Regions from separate parts of the Homo sapiens genome. Here region 2 is linked to region 1. Evidence: fine-mapped expression QTL. Tissue or cell type: whole blood. Region 1 holds a variant in brackets; the other region holds the start of a gene. All regions are shown on one strand. Distances are from middle to middle.

The links. PIP is the estimated chance that this variant, and not a neighbour inherited with it, causes the effect.
Region 2: TMCC3 starts here. The variant in region 1 is fine-mapped to the expression of TMCC3 in whole blood (INTERVAL, PIP 0.92).

The regions. Positions count from the first base shown.
Region 1 is chr12:94,810,016-94,812,701 of GRCh38, reverse strand. No RefSeq gene overlaps it. Among named protein-coding and RNA genes, the nearest start is that of MIR492, 23 kb to the left of the region's middle. The variant A/G (reference allele first, on the strand shown) is at 1,508.
Region 2 is chr12:94,649,170-94,651,855 of GRCh38, reverse strand. It overlaps TMCC3 (transmembrane and coiled-coil domain family 3), which reads left to right and starts at 1,299. Exons shown (of 4, transcript NM_020698.4): 1 at 1,299-1,503. The coding sequence starts at 1,426. LOC105369914 (a long non-coding RNA gene) reads right to left here. Exons shown (of 2, transcript XR_945225.4): 1 at 2,253-2,686; 2 at 854-951. RefSeq lists silencers at 1,176-1,345, 1,366-1,835, 1,926-2,055 and an enhancer at 1,132-1,847.

The DNA.
Region 1 (2,686 bases):
TTGCAAATACGTGTTTCTTGTTTTGTGTGGTCACTGAAGTTTCTGTTCTGTTATCTCTGTGGTCAGTCAGTGACCTGAAAAATATTTCTTTAAATTACTGGTTCCAAAAAGGGAAAAGTGGGTAGGAGTTGTTACTTAAAATTTTCATATGGATGCTGCCAGGGGAAGTTGCTGCCACCAAGAGGGCCAAAACCAAAGTGGGTGTCTGCGTCAACCCCTCAGACACTGCTAGACCAACAAAAATGTACAACATCAATTTTTGGAAGAGAAAGTCCCCACTACCTACTCTGGTATGAGTCAGCCATTCCTAGAACATGGGCTGCTATCTTCAAAGCTGTGATGGGAATGGTAGCTGGTTCACTTATGTTGCTGTCTTAGGAAAGATCAGCAGTCCCTCCCTTCATCAAGCCCTCCCCTGGTTGTTGTAAGTGTCTAGTTAGGTTCCACCGTTCCTAAATAGTTGATTCTAGTCACTCCTTCCAGGTCAATGGTTGTTTCAGTAGAGAGATAGCTCCTGGAGCTCCTTGCTCTGTTAGTTTGCATGACATCACTCCTGAAAGCCTGATTTTTATTTTTTGTTTATTTTGTCTCTAGCTTTACTGAAGTGTAATTGACAAATATGTATATTAAAGGTATACAACATGATGTTTTGAGATATGCACACACACACACATTGTAAAACAGTTACCATAATCTAGCTAATTAACATATTCATCACCTCACACAGTTCCATTTTTTCATATGTGTGTGGTGAGAATGCTTAAGATCTATCTACTGTCTTAGCAAATTTCAAGTGTAAATTGTTATACACTACCATCACTATGTTGTTATTAGGTCCCCAGGACTTATTCATCTTATAACTGAAAGTTTATATCCTTGACCAGTGACCAGCCCCTGGCAACCACCATTCTATTTTCTGTTTCTGAGTTCAGCTTTCTTAGATTCTACATCTATGTGAGATCATGCAGTATTTGTCTGTTTGTGTCTGGCTTATTTCACTTAGCACAGTGTCCTCCAGGTTCATCCATGTTGTCACATATGGCAGGATTTCATCTTCTTTTTTTAAATCTGAATAATATTCCACAGTGTATATATAGCACATTTTCTCTATCCATAAATCTGTTGCTAGACACTTAGATTGTTTCCATATCTTAACTATTGTCAATGATGCTGCACTGAACGTGAAATCCAGATACTTTTTTGAGAACATGATTTTATTTTCTTTGGAGATATACCCAGAAGGAGGATTTCTGGATGATATGGTAATTCTATTTTTATTTTTTTTCAGGAAACTCCATACTGTTTTCCATAATGGTTGTACCAATTTATATTCTCATTATCAATGCATAAGGATTGTTAATTTCCTCCTTGCCATACACTTGTTAACTTTTGACTTTTTGATCATAGTCATCCTAACAGGTGTGAGATGATATCTTATTGTTTTGATTTGCATTTCCTGATGATTAGCGATGTTGAGCACCTTTTTGTATACTTTTTGGTCATTTGT[A/G]TGTCATCTTTGGAAAAATATCAGTCTTTTGCCCATTTTTTTTCTTAGAGACAAGGTCTTGCTCTGTCGCCCAGGCTGGAGGGCAGTGACACAATCATAACTCACTGCAGTCTTGACTTCTGAGGCTCAAGCAATCTTCTTGCCACCCGAGCAGCTCGGACTATAGGTGCACAGCATCATTCCCGGCTAATTTTAAAAATGTTTTTTCTAGAGACAAGGTCTTACTGTGTTGCCCAGGCTGGTCACAAACTCCTGATCTCAAGGGATCCTACTGTCTCAGCCTCTCAAAGTGCTAGGATTACAGGCATGAGCCCCTGCGCCTAGCCCCTTTGCCCATTTTTAAGTTGGGATATTATTACTATTATTTTTTGCTGTTGAGGTATATGAGTTCGTTATATATTTTAGATATTAATACCTCATATATATATGGTTTTCAAATATTTTATCCCATTCCTTTGGTTGCCTTTTCGTTTTGCTGTGTTTTTGCTGTGCAGAATCTTTTCAGTTTGGGACAGTCTCCCTTGTTTGTTTTTACTTTTGTTTCCTGTGCTTTTGGTATCGTATCAAAGAAAAAAAGAAAATCATTGCCAAGACGAATGTAATGGAGCTGTCCCCCTATGTTTTCTTCTAGAAGTTTTACAGTTTTAAGTCTTAAGTTTAAGTCTTTCATCGATTTTGAATTGATTTTTGTGTATGGCATAAGATAAAGTTTCAATTTCACTTTTTTGGTACATGGATATACAGTTTTTTCGGCACCACTTATTGAAGAGACTATTCTTTCCCCATTGTGTGTTCTTGGCACCTTTGTCCACATGGTCATTATTTGACCGTACATGTGTGGGTTTATTTCTGGGCTCTCTATTCTGCTCCATTGGCCTATGTGTCTGTTTTTATGCCACTACTATACTGTCTTGTTACTATAGCTTTGTAGTATAATTTTTAATCAGTGAGCGTGATGCCACCAGCTTCATTCTTCCTGCTTAAGATCGTGTTAGCTATTTGGGGGTCTTTTATGGCTCCAAACAAATTTTGGGATTGTGTTTTCTGTTTCTGTGAAAAATGCCACTGTAATTTTGATAGGGATTGCATTGAATCTACATATCACTTTGGGCATATGGACATTTTGACAATATTGATTCTTCTGATCCATGAACACAGAATACTTTTCTGTTTGTGTCA
Region 2 (2,686 bases), 160 kb after region 1:
TTCTTACCCTTGAACGAAGATTCTGCATGGTCTCTGCCTTCTTTTCCATCATGTCTTCCTGTTCCTGAGGACACTCCCCAAAACTGATGACTTGAGGTTTTCCCAAATGTACCTCTGATTTTAGGGGCTCCAAAGTTTTCTTCAGCCTGCTCTACCGTCCCCTTTGAACCCTATGAGGGAAATCCTTCCCTCCCCCTGGACTGGTCACACTGGGCTCCAGGTCCTCTCTGGAACAGCTGCACTTTAAATATTTCAGCCCAGTCTCCCACTGTACACCCTACAGAGCCAGAACAGGTGTTTTGAATTTTGTTTGGGGTTACTGATATTTAAATTGTTCACCAATGGTCCTTCCTCTTCTAAACTCCAAATTCCTTGTGGGCAGGGACTGATGACTGGGAATGGGGAATACTAAAATGAAAAGATATCCTGACTTCCAAGTAGCTTAAAACATAAAGGTAAGCTGGGCACAGTGGCTCACGCCTGTAATCCCAGCACTTTGGGAGGCTAGGGCAGGTGGATCACGAGGTCGGGAGATCGAGACCATCCTGGCTAACATGGTGAAATCCCGTCTCTACTAAAAATACAAAAAAATTTAGCTGGGTGTGGTGGCAGGCGCCTGTAGTCCCAGCTACTTGGGAGGCTGAGGCAGGAGAATGGCGTGAACCCGGGAGGCGGAGCTTGCAGTGAGCCGAGATTGCGCCACTGCACTCCAGCCTGGGTGACAGAGCGAGACTCAGTCTCAAAAAAAAAAAAAAAAGAAAGAAACATAAAGGTGAGCCAGATATGCAAAATTAAAATACACAACACAGTAGGATCTTAGTTTAAGTGGAAGTATGCTCTATGCTCAGGGCAATCATGGTCGGGGGGAGTTTTTATTTTATTTCATTTTTTTACTTTAAATCTCTGGTCTCTAGTCCAGCGTCTGGTACATGGCAGCTGCCCAGTAAGTGCCTGTTGAATGGAGAATAACATAAAAAGAGGCATTTAAGGCAAGTGTCAACTTCTTGCAGTAACAGTCACCTTTTATATATAAAATAAGTCAACAGATAGTGTAGTGTGGATGTCGCTTATCTTTTGGGGAGAAAGAGGGCTGTGTGGGAGGGGATGGAATCAACTTTCAGCCAGGGAGGGAGGCGAAGACATTGCCTCCCGGGTCGGGGGTGGGTGGGGGGTCCAGGCGGCTGCGGGGCGCGGGAGAGGCGGGGAGAAGGGAAGGGGGAGGAGACTCTCGCCTCCTGCCCCGCCTCCCCCACCCCGCGGCGGCGGCGGCGCAGGGCGGCCGCGCGGGTGTTGGCACCAGAGGCAACAGCTGCAGCAGCCGCGCCGCCCCCTCGCCCGCGGCTCCCAGGGTGATCCCGAGCACAGCCGGTGGCTCGCGGCGCGGCAGCCCCAGAAGACGGGAAAGTTCGCGGCCGGAGCGCGGAGATGCCGGGCAGCGACACGGCGCTCACCGTGGACCGGACCTACTCGTACCCCGGCCGGCACCACCGCTGCAAGAGCCGGGTGAGCGCAGCGGGCTGGGGGGCGGCGGGTGCGCGCGGGCCCGGGGGCGAGGCGGGCTGGGGCGGCGGCTCAGTGCTAACCCACGCGCCCCCGGCGTTTCGCCGCCGCCCTCCGCTGCCGCCGGAGGTCCGTGCCTCCCCGATCCTCCGAGCTAAAAGGGTGGGCGTCGGGGGCGTCGGAGCCCAGGCTGCGGTTCTGGGATCCCAGGTCCGCCTGCCCCTCACGGCGCCCAGGTCCCCGCGCGCTATGCGGGACGCCCGGTTCCCCGACGGCCCGCGCTCTGCTGTCCTCCCCGCCAGGGAGCGCCCGCCGCTCCGCGAGGGAATCCCGCCACCCGGCCACCCGCGGCCCCGCGTCTCCAGGTCTCCGGGGTCTCGCCCTGGGTGTGACGGTGCCCTCCCCGCCGAACGTCCCGGCGGCCGCCCTGTCTCCCTGTCCTCGGGGCGTGTGGCCGGAACCCGAGCGCGGTGCGCAGCCGGAGCGCGGGGAGGCGGCGGACGGGCTCTGCCCAAGTGAAAAGTCAGAATCTTTGCGCTGCCTCTCCGGAGTTTCGAGCCGAGCCGAGCAGGCGCCCTCGCCATTGTTTGCAGTGTAATTTGCTGTTGCTGATTTTGGCTGTGGGCGAAAATAGCTCATTCTGAGCCTGCTGCAGAGACGAGCCCTGTAGGGCTTCAAAATAAAGACGGAGGCCGCAGCCCAAGCGCGGGTCTGTCCTGGGAGAGGAAGCCTTCGCCCTCCCCGGTGAATACCTTTGCCCTCCCGGGCTGTTGAATCGTCGAGGCTGGATGTGAGGCTCTGTAACCCGTTCTCCCCAGGGCTGATTGAAGTGCCATTTAACAAAGCACCTCCTCCACGCTGGCATCTGTTCTGGCAGGAGGCACCTGGAGTTGTTCTTTGCTCCGCCAACTACTTACTCGCTTGTCCGAGAACTGGGGATTTGGGTGTCAGCCTCTGTGTAAAGTTCACGGAGGGAGAGCCGGGCTCAGATTCTGGCCTGCCACTTCCAAGATCGAGAGACCAACTGGATGGAAATAGTAGCAATAGTGACGGGGTTGTGTCGCGGCCCTTTGTGCAGGATTTTGGTCTTCACTCATAATTTGAAGTAGTAATCGATTGCCCCAGAAGTGAAGCAATGAGTCTCTGGTTTATTTGCCCGCTTTCCCTTTTTCCTTTAGCATCTGTT